2 linked regions of the Homo sapiens genome follow. The protein of the gene in region 1 interacts with the protein of each later gene in a pairwise test. Each region holds a gene or a part of one and is shown on either strand. Other genes may lie near its edges. The genes, in order: TRHR and TMEFF2.

What was found.
Region 2: the proteins of TRHR (region 1) and TMEFF2 interact in binary tests that used the Homo sapiens proteins (3 or more experiments, as listed by UniProt).

Annotation. Positions count from the first base shown.
Region 1 is NC_000008.11:109,089,368-109,097,047, forward strand, and holds part of TRHR (thyrotropin-releasing hormone receptor), read left to right. Parts: intron 1-7,680. UniProt on the Homo sapiens protein: Receptor for thyrotropin-releasing hormone (TRH). Upon ligand binding, this G-protein-coupled receptor triggers activation of the phosphatidylinositol (IP3)-calcium-protein kinase C (PKC) pathway.
Region 2 is NC_000002.12:192,191,705-192,200,237, forward strand, and holds the start of TMEFF2 (tomoregulin-2 isoform 1 precursor), read right to left. Parts: upstream 3,230-8,533; 5' UTR 2,821-3,229; coding exon 2,649-2,820; intron 286-2,648; coding exon 176-285; intron 1-175. UniProt on the Homo sapiens protein: May be a survival factor for hippocampal and mesencephalic neurons. The shedded form up-regulates cancer cell proliferation, probably by promoting ERK1/2 phosphorylation.

The sequences.
Region 1 (7,680 bases):
GTACTTTGTAAAAAAGTATACATATAATCATTCACACTGTTACTTCATAAACTCCAGCTGATATATGCATCGTAACTGGACACAGCAAAATAAACTGCTAAAAAATTTAAGTGTTTTAGATATGCATGAAATGAATAATGAGCCATAACTTAAAGGAAACATATACTGCATTTTAAATGGTGCTGTAATACTTGGTTTATATAATACTTATTATTAAAGATAACTAGATGACAGAAGAAAGACCTAAACAACTATTGTCAGCTCTTAGATTTCTTTTGCCTTGGATCTAGTAGTGATACCTAATATAAGGCTTATTCAGCCATTTATTACCCAAAACTTGATTAATGGAAATTTAGAGAGATCTATTGACTATCTTCCAAGACAAACATTGACAAATATAATAAGAAAGCAAAGAATATGTACATCTCAATTAGACACCAAACATGGGTTAATGTCTGCAGCAAGGAAGATCAGGGAGTAAATTCATTCATTAGACTCCAATTTGCATTCCTGCTATACATTTTTAAAACTTGTTTGTCTTGTCTAATGTCCTTTCTTTCCATTACAGTCATTAGTACCTATCAGCATTAATATGCTTTAATTTGCTAATTATGTTACATGTTCACAGTCTTATTTCAAAGCTGTTACCGATAAGCTGTCCTTACAGAGGCTGTATGATAGAAGAAAAAGCCAAAGACTTGGCTCCAAACAACCTTGGGCTTAAATGCCAGGATTCCATTCAAACTCTATAAACTTGGATAAGCAGAACTCTGTGAGCCTTAGTTTTGTCATCTGTTAAATGAGATAAATAGCAATATCCAAGATCAGTGTAAGGATCCATGAAATACCTCATGAAAAATGCCTAAATTGGAGTGGTGATTAACAACTGAGTATTAACTGGCTCCTTCTCAATTTTTAAAAATATTTTGGCAACTGTGAGGGAACTACAGGTTTTTCCTTAAAAATACACATTCACTGCTTTAACAAAGATTACTTGTTGAACAAATGTGTATATGACGTGGTAACTTCTTTAAGGAGTTTTTTTAAATAATTAGAGCATTTGGAAATACATTCTGAGCATTTGGGGTTGTCACATTAACACCACTGTCAGTTAGCCTCCAAGAATAAGGAATGAAGTTCCCTTGTTGCAAATACCAATAACACCCTAATTGAGAAACATGGAGTGACACATAAGCCAATAGGAGTGTATTTAAGTAGTGTGTCTTGTAATTCAACCCTGATTATAGATGGGATGTGAGTTCAGAGAAAAGAAGGAAAATTACTGGGCTACAGGGATCAGAGAAGTCTTTATGGAAGAGGTGGCATTTGAGATGGCTCTGGAAGGATGAAGATAATTTGAAAAGTAAAAGTCAAGAAGGACAGTATTCCATGCATAAAGGACAAGACATAGTGGCTGGGATGAGAATGGCATGGGTTTGGAGAGGGGCCAAGAAGGGGCACATAGAGTGGGACTTATGTGATGGAGCGACTTAGTTGTCTGAAATGAATGATGTATTTGTGGGAGTGGTAAAAAGTAAGACTGGATTGATGTGTGAAAGTGAAAGAAGAGAAAGAGACAGAGAGACAGAGAAGGCTGTGGAGGATCCAGACAATCAGGCAAAGAAAGGAATTTGCACTTAATGCAGAGGCAACAAAGAATGTGAGTGATGAGCAGGGAGCAGCAGTGATGAAATGGTGTTCAGGGATGAGAAATCTGACAGCCGTCGGGGAGGCAGATTTGAAGAGAGAGAGATTGGTGGAAGAAAGACCACTTTGGAAGTTGTTAGTAGTGATACAGGCATGAGGCAGTAAGATCCTCTATCAGGAGAATTTAAAGTAAAGAGTATACCAGAAAGATGTTTCAAAGAAAGAAAGGGTGTGATGTGAACATATTAGACATAAAGGATGAAGAAAGGACAATTCAATATGGCCCCAGGATTCTGAGTCTGGAAGAATGTGGTGCCCCGATCAGTGGGAATGAGAACAGTGAAGGGGAGCTAGTTTTGTACAAAATTAGTGACCTGCTTTTTTCTTCTTCCAAAATAGTTATTTTCTTAAACCTTTGAAAGGTTCAAACCTCCACCTTCTATAGCCAAAGGACTTTAATTTTAATATTTTCTCTGCATTTTTTTCTTTTAGGAAAGTTTAACTTACAGTTTAATAAATACTCATCTGGGTCAGGTCTTTCTAATCAAGTTCTTAAATTCAAATGTGCATAGCCTAAAAGAGAAACATTTAAAAAGGAAGTAAAAGAGCATTTACATGTAAGGGACAAATGTGAGTTTCTTCCTTATTTGTTTTTAACTTTCATTCTCTATGCAGAAAATCCAGGCCAAAATCTTTGTTTTCTTTTATTCAGAGATTCAATTATATTTTAGGAAAACATCTAAATGTTGGGTAAATTCCGTAAGATAAATTACCCAAACTTATGGCTTGGAATTGTGTAAACTAAACGGATTATCTGACTAAATACATTGCTTTTATAGTTTGTTATTTTAATATAAAGGAGACATTGTTTAAATTATCATATTTGTCTCATTTCAGCTCTATCTACACAATGCCTCAAGAGTCCCTCAGTTCAGTCAATTCAGGGGTTCAACATTATGTAGATACAATATCTCTATCATTGACTGTGTATTTCTATGTAATTGATTGGATTTTTGGTATTTTGAAAGCACAGAAACACCTGAACATCTTAGTAAAATGTAATATCAATAAATACATTCAATTCAAATATGTACTTTCTACAGGATGCAGAAATATGCAGAATATTTTATAGATTTATAAAACAGGCTACCAGTTTTATTATCAATGGAGTTGCTTCAATAATTTTTTTCTTAATTCTTACACAATAACAAGTAGAGAAACCATGTAACATAGTCTTAATAGAAGCTCTAAGAGTAATGGCAGAATTTTTACTATGGAATTCACTTGACTCATCAAGCCTTAAAAATATCGGTCTTTGTTTCCATGAAACTATTAAACATCTAGAAGGAATATTGGTAGCCCAAGAAACAGAAACAACTTTCCTTTTTATTTATTATTTATTTATTTATTTTTATTTTATTTATTTATTTATTTATTTTTGAGATAGAGTCTCCCTCTGTAGCCCAGGCTGGAATGCAGTGGCAGTATCTCAGCTCACTGCAACCTCTGCCCCCAGGATTCTAGAGATTCTTCTGCCTCAGCCCCCTGAGTAGCTGGGATTACAGGTGTGCGCCAACACACCTGGCTAATTTTTTTCTATTTTTAGTAGAGACAGGGTTTCACCATGTTGGCCAGACTGGTCTTGAACTCCTGACCTCAGGTGATACGCTAGTCTCGGCCTTCCAAAGTACTGGGATTACAGGCTTGAGCCACCGCACCCGGCACAACTTTCCTTTTTAAAGTAATGCACGCCTTTTGCTGTTATTGGTGATAATGACAATGATGCTATAAAAGCAGTCATGTGTATTATGGAAAATATAGAAAACTAGGAATAGGCAAAAGCCATCTCTTACCTCCTGACCCCACCTCTCAAAGACCAAAATCATCATCATTTTGTTATACCGCTTTTCTTATGTTTTCACTGGATCTTTTTTTTTTTTAAACACAATTATAGTCAAATGTATATGTAGTTTTGGCTTCCTGGTTTTCCACATACAATTTTGGAAATAATATTCTCAAAGAGAAAGCACAAGGCAAAGCAAAAGAAAGTGATCAGGATTAAGTTTGTTTCTCTGAGCCTCAGTTTTCTCATCAATAAAACAGGAAAAATAATGACCTCATAGTGCTATTGCTGAAGTCATATGAGATATATCAGAAAAAATTCAGATCTGCTTTCCTCCCACCTGTCCAGCCACCTACTCTTCCCTCTCTCCCATGTGTCTCAGTGATCCCCACCTCGCTGGGCACCCTCCTGACCCTCTCTTAAGCTCTCCTCAGTCATACAATGCTCATGGAAAATGAAGACACTCAGATAAAGAACTGGCTTCCATGTGTCTTCCGTCTTCTCCCCTGCCTCACTCCAACTCCTACCTCTAGTGCTATTTACTTTTTTTTTTTTTTTTTTTTTTTTGAGACAGAGTCTCACCCTGTCACCAGGCTGGAGTGCAGTGGTGCGATCTCGGCTCACTGCAACCTCCGACTCCCGTGTTCAAGCAATTCTCCTGCCTCAGCCTCCCGAGTAGCTGGGATTACAGGCATGCACCACCATGGCCAGCTAATTTTTGTTTTTTTAGGAGAGACGGGGTTTCACCACGTTGGCCAGGATAGTCTCGATCTCCTGACCTCACGATCCGCCAGCCTTGGCCTCCCAAAGTGCTGGGATTACAGGCATGAGCCACCATGCCCGGCCTATTTACTTTTTAAAGAATACATGTTTTGGGGTATGAATGAATGTTTAATTAAATTTGGGGAAGATATTGAACAATAATGACCTACTGCAAAATTTTACTTAGTGTTGACCCAGCTCTACCTTTAGAACTTTTGCTTTCCCTCCAACTCATTTAAAAAAAAAAAAAAAAGACTAAGAAGATAGTTACCGACCAGCCTTCACCTGTCTGGAACTTGGGGTATTAGTTTGCATTTTGAAGAATTCATGAGAGGCTACGTAAAACCTGTAAGACACATAGGAAAGGAGGCACAATGTTGGAATGTCAGGCAGTAGGCCTGGCATTTGGGACCATAAAATCTCATAAATTGTAAACGTAAGCAGCTGCCAGCTCCACCTACATCTAAGAGAACCTTTACTCAACAGACTCATTCTTCTCCCCAGGTAGCTTAATCAATGGTTAAGCTCACAAGGCAAATTAATGGTATTAAACTCTTCAGCATTAGGCCTAAATTAGAGGTTTCCTGAGAGTACTGAGGCTACAGGCTCATCTTTCATTTTTTTTTTTTCATTTTTCAAAATTTTTTTAGAGATGGAGGCCTTGCTCTGTCATGCAGGCTGGTGTGCAGTGGTGCAATCATAGCTTACTGCAACTTCTACCTCTTGAGTTCAAGAAATCATCCTGCTTCAGTCTCCCAAGTAGCTGGGACTACAGGTGCACACTGCTGCGCCCAGCTTATCTTTCATTTTTAATTGTATTATTTATTCCAATGTCTGGGTTCAACTATATACTTAATAGTGTAAATATCTCTAAGTTCAGGAGAAAAATGTGTAATTTTTGTGACAGCTCACAGCTAAGTGTGCCATTTTATTTTTATTAAAGAATAGTTTTCTATTTTCTGATTCACATCCTGTATAAGAAAAGATTTTGTACATATCCTATAAGTTGACTAATAATCTCCTAAAGTTGTGTGTTTTGTGTGCTTTTAGATAAGTACACATTGTTTATTCCTAATTTTATATTTGCATGTTGCAAATATAAAATTAGGAATAAACAATGTGTCTTTATGAATAATTGAGCAATAATTTCACTAGCAGATAAAAATAAATTATTCCATATGCCTACAAAAAAGAAAGACCTATGCTCCTATAGAATTCAATCTGATCACACAAGAAACATCATAAAATCAGCTAAACTTGAAGATGACAAACTACTTTATACTTCTTTACATAGTCTCTCATTAATTCTTCAACATGCACACAGATACTCCAAGTTCCAGACAGATGAAGTCTGATTGGTAAGTATGTTCTTAGTCTCCTTTAGGTTTTTTTTTTTAATGAGTTGGGGTAAAAAGCAAAAGTTATAATGCTCGAGCTGGGTCAGTGTTAAGCAAAATTTTGCAGTAGGTCATTCTTATTCAATATGTCCCCTAATTTAATTAAACATTCATTCACATCCAAAAAGCCCCTAGCACTATCCTAGGTATAGAGGCTACAGGGATATATAAAGACAAACTCTTTGTCTTCAAGGAGCTTAATATGGGCCATGTACACAAACAATTCTGAGCATACCACTACATTCTATGAGAGAGAACGTGGCATCAATGAGAGGAGAAAGAAAATGGGGGGAGGCTTTTGGAGTACATGGTATTTGAACTGGACCTATAAAGGTGTGATGAATGTCTACAAGCAGCTATAAAGTCAGAGAAAAAAGAAGGAAAGTTCAACAGAAAGGGGGAAGTAGATGGGAGAAGACTGGGCACGTTCAGGGAGGGAATAATCTGGTATTGTTGAAGCAAGCTATGGAAGGGAAGCGTCTAGAGAAGGAAGTCTGAGCCAGATTGTGGTCCTGCTACACCTAATTCCCGCCTCTCCTCCCCATCCTGTCCCTTGTCATTCTACATACTTTCTTCTACGCCCATGCTTACAACTTTCACCTGAGTCTTCAGTGTGTAGCTTCAGAAAAGACATCTCCTGACCCATACATACAATTGCTTTTTGGACATCACATAATTACACCAAATCCAATAGGTCTAAAGCAAAACACATTATTTTGCCTTATAAACTTCTACCTCTTTCTTTCTTTCCTGTGTTAGATTCCCAAACCAGAAACCTGGGGGTCCTTCTAAGTGCCTTTTTCTCCTGTTATCCCCCCGCCCCCCATAGCTAAGCAATAGCCACATCCTAGTGATTCCAGCTCATTATTCTCCTGCTGACCTACTTCTCCACTCGCACCGCTGCTGCCCTGGTTCACTGCCTCTCACTGCCCTATTTCACTGCACACCTTACCAGCCTCTCTGGCTCCCATGGCACTCTCCTCCAAATCATTCTGCACATTGCTCACTAAAGGATCTCTCTAACACAGAGATACTATTTGCATAATTTTTACACTCCCCTGAGCACTGGAATTTTAACTCCTTAGCGTCACAAGTAAGAGCTTGTCCCTTTCCTACATTTTCGGCTTCCTCTCACGTGGCTCTCCCAACTTACATATTACGCTCCAGCAATTCTGAATTATTTGTAGTTCTCTGAACATGCTGCGTTCCCTAAGCTGGAACACTGTTCATCTTGCAAACTCCCAATTATTTTTCAAGTCATAAATCAAATGATGCCCAGCCACCTCATCAAGCCTTCACTGAATTTCTCAGGTAGATTTATATAGCTGCATTCCTAACTACATATATGTTAGGTGTTCTTCCTATATTTCCACAGTACTTTGCATACACATGTGCTTTAGTAATTCTTGGTCCTCATAATTGGTAGCATGTCTTCCCACTCTCACTAACATCCCAAAGAGTAGGGCCTTGCATTGTGGTACCCTCAGCCCTGCATTTGGCTACAGTAGGTTCCCCAAAGTGTACACACTCAGTGGTGTGTAGCTGCCAAGGAGTACAGGCTTTGCAAGAGCAGGTGATTAGTCTCACTCCCCAACTCCGCATTCAGTGCCATCACACTGGTGGCTTAAAATTGGTCATGGTTGAATTACTTACTTTACAAAATCAGCAAATATGACAAGCCAGGGCCCCCTCTTTTTTTGTGGAGAGATGGTTGTTAAATACTTATCAGCACACTTTTGTGTTTGTGTGTATGTATATATACAAATATATGTGTATATATATATAAAAAAACATGTAATTTTACAAATATAGTAAATGAAAGTGTGAAAGAGTTCATTCGTACGGACTTAGGGTCTCGGTCAAGTCCAACACTCTATTTTGCTTCCTGAAAAATTATCCTTACATGTGACATATTCTTCTCTGATTTTACTTAAAATCTCCTTGTCTTTTATTAAATCTTTTTTGAATTCCCAAAATAACAAAAGTGCAACTTGCCAGTACGATGGTGATTGTGTTAGTGGAGAAGATGTT
Region 2 (8,533 bases), on another chromosome or scaffold:
CAAAAAGCGTATGTCTTCTTGACATCAGTTGGCTCTCTTGCTAGTACTTTTGCTTGGTGCCAGCTTCCCTCTTAGCTTGCATAGCTATAAATTTCCAAGTGATAGGCTGTAAAGGAAGATTCCTGCTTTGCAGTCTCATTAATGAATTAGAAGATGCAAATATAAGACTTCTTACCTTGAACTGACAGACGCAAGTCACAGTGTCTCCAATTCTTAAACATTCCCCATCAAATTTACAGGTGTTGGTGTCACAGAGGAAGAGATCATTTTCTCTGTCATCATAACCTCAAATTCAAAGAGAACACTCCAGTCATTAAAACATCTTACAGATTTTTAACAAAAAAAAGCACTACTTTGAAGCTTTAAAATACTTGTCCTAAATTTTAAATCCAACAACTATAGCTGTACTGCAAGGTCACTGTCTACTGATAACCTCAAAATCTAGTTAAGTGATCAATATTCGTTTCCATTTTCCACAATTCTTTTCTAGTCAATTCTCCTTTAGTATCCTTTTCTGATAGTGCTATTTTTTAAAGCTTGCGTTAATACTGACAGTGGTGAATGAAAGCTTAACATTTGCTTCCTGTTTTTTTTTTATTTTTATTTTTTGCTCATTAGGTGGACAATATTTATGACCACAAAACTCCACATTTTGGAAAAGAGCTAGTGATGATCTCTGAATACCCTTTTACCATTTCCCCATCTTTAATTGTTCTTTTGCTTCAACGACTGAAACAACCCCTTATTTGAAATGTATCCAGACAAAGAGGAAACAAAGCCTCAATAATAAAGATAAACAGGCACAGTGTTTTCTGTGATGGTCTGTTTGGCTCAAATGAAGATTGATCACCTCTAAGTTAACAGGGGTGGAAGCGGGGTGCCAAGTTCTTGACAACCTATCTGCAAAACCAGTTTATTCTCTTTAGTTTATGCAGTCCCCTTTAAAATATCTGGTAAATATGTAATTTCTTGATTGCAAATGTCAACTTCACATTTAAGTTAGTTATTTCCTAAAACAATGCAAGGGCTAGGAATGAAGCAAACCAGTCTGTGTTGGACTACAAAGCCATCAACATTTCCAAAAATTGTTTTTGCAGGCTCATAATTATTACCATAATAAAGCATCTAAAAAGTGATTAGGCAATAGCAAAGTGAAACTTATTCTTTCAAAAACAACACACATGTACGCATGAATCAAGAAGTTATAGAAACATGTTGAGTTTTATTAAAATGCCAAATTTAGAAACTGCCAAAAAAGAGAACAATCTATTGACCCAAATCTAATAGGGTTGCATATCTCAACTTGTCTTTGTAAAGGATAAATTAGAATGATGCATAATAATTTTCCTTTTGGCATTTACATCAGTAATAACTAGGAACTATACAGGCTTTCACCCTGAGTTACAGTTGGTCATTCCCTCCTCTCTAAAGTTACATACACTTCAGCTTATATACATCTTTGAAAGACACTTTATTCAGAGCCAGATTTAACTACAGCAAAATTATATTCACAGAAGATGAAAAATTACATACACACTTGCTAAAACTAGAACAGACCACACCTAGGGGACAATACCCAGGCATGTTAACGGAGTTTAAAATGCCAAGGAAATTACACCACAATTCTGCCCAGTATACTACAGGCTGTCAAACCGAAATGCTATGCCAGCTAGGAGTGCAGCAACTCCCATCCTCTGGCCCTATTTAATTAGGAAGCTTCAGCAGAGCGAAGCCTGCCAAGCGTTCGCCGTCAGAATCTGAAGGAACCCGAGCGAGCAAGAAGAGTGCCTGACCCACTCCACAGAAGCCTGTCCAGAAATGGAGGAGTCAGCGCCCACTGAAGTCGGTTCCGCCCTCGGCTCGCCTACATGGAGCCTGACCAGCCTCAGTCATGCCCACTCCGGCCTGGGAGACCCGCAAAGTGTTCTTTTTCTCAACTCCCCTGTACTACCTTGAAGCTTAGGGAAGCAAAGAGAGGGGCATATCTGGACTGCAAAACCAATGTCTTTTGCCGCCTAGGAGAGAAGGGAATGAGAGAGAGAGAGAGATAGATAGATAGAGAGAGAGAGAGAGAGAGAGAGAGAGAGAGAGAGAGAGAGAGAGAAATTCTATTGAAACCCAGCTCCTCTAGAATCTGTGTGACCTGGTCTTCAACGGGAGACCAGTGCGACCTCATGGCACCTTTGCCAGGAATCAGCGATTCCCCTGCAGTCACCATTTGATTTATTGCTTTCTCGCTCATTCTTTCTCATAAAGTTATTTCTTCCTCATCCTAGTAAGACTTTTTTCTTTAATGATGACAAAGCTTCTGTTTCAGTGTTTCCCCTAGGATTGGTGCTCTTTCAAAACAGTGAACCCAGAAAACCATCCCGTTTAATATTTCTCAAAATCCTCGCAGCTCCAATGTAAGCGCAAGCATGCAAAGGTTTCCTGCTACACCTGCACTTTCTGCCCATCCCAGAACCACCCCTCACCCCCGGGCCTGCAACAGTTCCCCTTGTTTCTCTGGATAGAGGTGGGTGGTATTAGGGGTCTAGGGCAGTAGGAGGTGAGGGGCTGAGGAGGCGCGCTAGGGTAGGCTGGTCTGTGCTGGATACGCGTGTTCTTCTGCGGAGTTAAAGGGTCGGGGACGGGGGTTCTGGACTTACCAGAGCAATTCCAGCCGGTGGGCGTTTGGCAGTCACTTAAGGAGGTAGGGAAAGCAGCGAGCTTCACCGGGCGGGCTACGATGAGTAGCATGACGGGCAGCAGCAGCAGCCAGCAAAAGCCCTCGCAAAGTGTCCAGCTGCTGCACTGCCGCGGGGACTCCCACAGCACCATGACTAGTTCGTGCAACTCTGCAGCAGCAAACGGCTTCCGAGGAACACAGGATCGCGGGGGCCGGGCAGCGGGCTACTGAGCATCCCGCGGACGGCGGCAGCAGAGGCGGCGGCGGTGGCAGTGGCACCCGGCGGGGAAGCAGCAGCCAAACCCGCGCATGATCTCGAGAGTTTCAGCAACATCCAGGGACTGGGCTCAGCCCCGGAGCGAGAGGGTCGTCCGCTGAGAAGCTGCGCCGGAGACGCGGGAAGCTGCTGCCATAAGGAGGGAGCTCTGGGAAGCCGGAGGACAGGAGGAGACGGGAGTCCAGGGGCAGACGAGTGGAGCCCGAGGAGGCAGGGTGGAGGGAGAGTCAAGGCGCCCCGCAGCCCGGCAGCCGCCTCTCGAGCTCTGCCGCCCGCATCCCTCTGGCGTTTGGGAAGCAGCAGGTCCTCAGCCCGCCCGGGGTCACGTGGGAAGAGGCAGTCGGGCTCTGATTGGTGGAGCAGGATGCAGGTCCCGGGAGGGAGGGGTCGACGAGGAGGTGCAAGGATGCAAGGAGGAGGCGGCCGCGGAAGCCACAGATGGGCTCGCTCGCCAGGCGCTGGCCCGAGTGGGGCTAGGCGGGGATGGCTCAAATGAGAAGCTCGGGCTTCAGGGTGGGCTACCCGCACACTCATATACCATTCGCCTCACTCTCCGCTCCAGGACGCCCCCTACCGAAGGCGGGGTCCGGACTAGCGCCCCTCTTCCGCGCGTGACCCCGGGCCGCGAGTGCGGGCCGCGGCTGGGTGGCGTCTCTCCGAGCTGGAGATGGTGGGGGCGGAGGTGTCAGAGGAGCAGCAGCAGCAGGGCAGAGAGGGGCGAGTCGGCGCGGGAGAGGGCGTCCTGCTGGCGACCGGCGCTCCAGCGTGCGGGAGCGCGCCGCCTAGGCTGTAGGGGGATGCAGGCTGGGAATGTCGCGGCGGAGAGGCCAGGGACGTTTCTCTAGGGATTTACAGGAAAGAGGGTGAGAGGCGATGGTGTTAGAACCGCTCTTGCCGACCTGGAAGCAACAGCAGCATCTCCCACAAGAGCGTGCAACCCCAAGGCTGCTCGCCGAGGCAGCTCAGCCATCCCGGCAGGCGCTCTCCTTCCTTCTCTCTTCTCCCCTCTCTCCTCCCAGGCCCCCCGCAGCTCCGACCCAGCCCAAGCGTTCGCAGGTTTGAATCCCTCTCCTCATCACCCGCTCCTCTCCAGCCCGTAGCCTATTAGTGTGTCCACCTGGGAGGTGCGGTCAGATGTGTTTGGAAGGTCAGATTGGTCGGGACAAGTGGTCTGAGAGAAAGAGAAAGGCTCCTCTGCATACGCCGCGGGTGGGTTGCCGGGAGCATCGGCCGGGCAGCGGCGTCCGGGAAGGGGAGAGCGGGCTCCATTTGTTGGCCCAGGCAGTGACCCTGCGTTCCTTACTCGGGTCTTTGCCGGATGGCCGGTGACCTGGGGCGACGAGAGAAGGTCTAACTCGGCAGGAGTCTCTGGCTCTGCGCGTTTCTTTCATTCTCTCCAGCGGGAAGGGCAAACGGCATAGCGGGACCCGCCTTCCGTCTGCTGCATTCTTCAGGCAGTTAGACACACTCTTTAGCCTAATGGAATTTTAGTCGCCAGTAACGGGACCAAGAGCTTTCGGGGACAAGGGTGGAGAGGAACATCTTTCTTCCATGACCGGGGTCACTATTGCAGTCTCAGTGTTTTGGATGCCCCATAGGGAAGAGCTTTCTTTTTGGTGTGTGATTATTCAGTGATTCCTGTTTTTGTTTTTGTTTATCTTCTCTCCGCTCTCCTTCTCTATTCCTCTCTGTTATCCCTCCTCCTTCTTCTCCCCCCGCTTTCAAAAGCCTCCGGATCCTCCCTTTTTCTATTTAAATTCTCCTTTTGTGCCCCTCTTTCTGTGTCCCCTGAATTTAGGAGAGCATTTGATAACATTTAACAGGCAATTAGTGTCCATTCCCAATCACTTAAAAGAGGCATTCATATACTTTGAAAACGGGACTATCTATCCTTTGCAGACACCAGCAGAAAAACAAATTGTACCCGAGTAATCCTTTTAAGTACTTTAACCTCCAACCTCCTCCCACTTCCTTGCTTTTTAACTTCTCCTTTGAGAGATGTGATCGTGCAGCACCTCAGTGCCTCAACGAAATCTTTTTTTTTTTCCTGTGTGAAATCCATCCCTTTATCTTACATCTCCGCCTCCGTCCGAGACTGTCCCTCTCCCCTCCCACCTCCAAAGATTTCTGAATCTCAGTGTCTCTCACTCCTGGCAATTAAGCAGCAGATCCCAGCATTCTAGTCGGTGGCATCTCGCTCCTCACCGACGAAGACTCCATTAAAACAGATCAATTAGACCAGACGTTGGAGGCATCAGAAAATCGGCTTCTAGACAGAGCAGCTAAATTCTTTAAGGAAACAGAATACCCATTAGATAGAGCTGCCAACTAATATTGCAAAACAAGGAATTAGAAATTTCTTTCGCTACAGGCTTTCAGCAGAGAAGGCAACATAAATATAGATCAAGATTTAACAACTCTACAGCAGAGAATGAGAACATGTCATTTTCCATAGCAAGGCTGGTGTGGTAACTAATCAGGCTTATGAAAATAAGTCATGCTTGAAACTAAAGGCAAAGTCCTTAAAAGTGTTTATGCAGTAATTATGATAATGAAACAGGACCTGCTAGGATTTCAGAGTTTGGCTATGTAAGTAGAATTTTAGAGAACCTCTTAGCAGAGGAAAACTGTTTTTGAATTTTCTGCTAAGTAAATTTTTGGCATACTTTCTAATAATATATGCTCTTCCTAAGACGTTTTGCCAAAAGTAAGTTAAAACTCCAAAGGAGTTAATTACTGGTTGTAACTGGTTAACAAATGCGGTTGCTTCCACAGAGGTCCTTTAAATTATTAAACAGTTTGAAGCAAAGCCTTTTCAATGGGAATGCTGCAATTTTGTTGCACTTACTCTGTACTTAGTGTTATAGTGCCACCAAGAAACAAATTCTGAAACTGGCAAGCACCACCAAGTGGCAGAAGAACATCACTCATTGAGCAGAGAATTGTATTACTGAATATGTAAATAAAAATATATACATTATTTAGACTTGTCACTAGGTACCAAAGAAGTAGACAAGACTGCATTAGCAATTGGATTAGTGCTTTAACTTTTCCCCAGCAAGGCAAAATCAGTTTACTTATTAGAATTAAATTTAAGTCTATGAACTGTACTTTGCATTGCGTATCATATGATTGCTAGTAATATGACACAATCATACCATGTATTTGCAAAATTCTTATTTTAAAATACTATACCATATTTACTTTCAATCTTCTTGAGCTAGAACACTTTATTTGTGGCATATACACTCTAGAATTGATGCAGAGGAGCAGAGTCCAGTTGTTAGATTTTTCAGTAGAAATAGTGCAGATATATTTTCTCCAGAAAACTTAAGAACATTTTTTTTTCTCATGGAAAGAACATCATTATAAAGTGTGAGATTACTCACAGCTTAAGTAGGGGGCTTGGGAGTTATTCTCCAACAAGAATAGTTTAAGATAAATAAATGAACCTGGGAAAATAAGATACACTGCCAATCAGAACTCTTATCTCCTTCATGATTTCATACTTTCTGATTGCTTCAATAAAGGTAAGATGTATCCTTTGCTTCTTAGGTGTCAGGCATTGTGCCATGTAGGATAGAACATGTTATTTTTATTTAATCTTTAAAACACCCCTATGAGACAAAGAATATTATCTCATTTTATATAAAAGGAATATGGCTTTGAAAGCATCAGGCAACTTGCCCCAAGAAACAAATCTCGTCAGTGACACTGCTGGGACTCTGTGAAATTCTGCCTGACTTCAGAGCACAAGACATAAGTCACTAATTTCTGCTGTATTGCTGCCTGTTAGCTTCTGAGAGGGGAAACTAACTGGGAACGTATCAGTTCTGTCCATGATACTTCATTTGCCCTTTCTGTGGAGCCGCAGTAAGGCCCAAACTTTAATTCTCAAACTTCGGCAATAAGATCCAGTGATTTCTGAACCTGGTTGATCATATGAATTCCTTGAGAAACTTTGAAACAATAGACAAATTCCAAGTCCCACTATCAGGGATTCAGAAAATCTGGAGTTGGGCCTTGGGATCCACATTTCAATATTCATCCTTGTTGGAGAAGTAAGGTACCACCTATACCTATATGACAAATGAAAGGATACCTCGATTTTTGCTCAGTTTTCACAGAGAGGTTTCTGAGACAGGTTAAAAGCTTTTACTCAGTGTAAAGATGAGCTGTTGTACATGTCTGTCTCTCTGTTTTTATGCATATGTTCACCAAATATGTATTAAGCTTCTAATATGTCTGACACAGTAACTTTGTGACTGTAGACAATTTCCTCATTTGTAAAATGTGAGTAATAACAATACCTGCCTCCTGGGCTTGTTCTAAAGATTAAAATAAAAATGTATGGTTTAATGGTAGTGGATTTGGGGGGATCCCCTATATAAATAAGTGAATGGAGGTATGAATAAATAAATACATAAAGATGTGTGTACTTATATTTATACACATAATTAAAAATAGTTAAAGATGTACAAATTAAAGTTAAATGTATGTGATATTGAAGTATATGTTGATTATTGATAATGAAGTACAGTATAATTTCTAACCCCACACCTTAACATCTCATACTTAATAACTCATATCTTAATTTCTAGCCTACTTAAGATACATAGATATAGATAGAATGTTCTAAATCATTATTGCCTTAGTTTTAATGTATAATATTCATATGAAAAAGTATCTATCAGTGTGTAGTAAATGTATTAGAACATTATTTATAGGTCAAATGATATTGACAATGTTTCAGAGTCGTCATCTTCATTTCTGGATAATTTTTCAAACTGAGAGTAATTAAATTTGCTATTTTTTCACCCTTTTCTACAATGGCAAATAACATATAAACAATGAGCTGTGATTTAAAGAAATAATTTTATAATGTAAAAGCTTCCCTATGCCTTATTGATTCCCATGCCCTTAATTAATTTTGGTAGTTTAAGTTTGTGATTTCAGTGCTGAGGAAAGTTTATTTCATCTTAGAGCAGTGGGGCTCAGTCATGATTTCACATCACAATCACCTGGATAATTAAAGAATACTGATGCAGAGTTCGTATTCAAAGACTTGGAATCCCTAGAAGTGACACAGAAGCATTGGTATATATATATTTTTAAAGTTTTCCTGGAGAAACACATAGCCATGATTGAGAACCACTGTCCTGGGGAAAGTGACTATTTTCTCATTACTCAAATAGCCAAGTTTCAGGAGGTAAAATACTTACATTTTTCTCCATTAAAACTTGTAAAACACATATCTCACCAAAGACTATTAAAACATCTAGCCAAAGCAATATGAACTAGTTAATGTTTGCCACTAGCTTGCCAGTAGTTAAAAAAAAAAAAAGGAAGAACTGTTATTGGAAGAGAGCTAGATTTAATAAGCAGTAGTCATCTCTATACAATCTGGTGTCTTTTTATTTATAAATTCAAGTAGGTTTCCATTGCTATTAATTTAATCATAGCCTTCTTAGGGCTTAGCCTAATGCTTTATTTCAAACTCATTTTGAAATTTATTCTCTGGAGTCAGAAACAGGAACTAGAATCAGCTTGGAATGAAACTACCTTTCATGTCTCTCTTTGGCTACTCA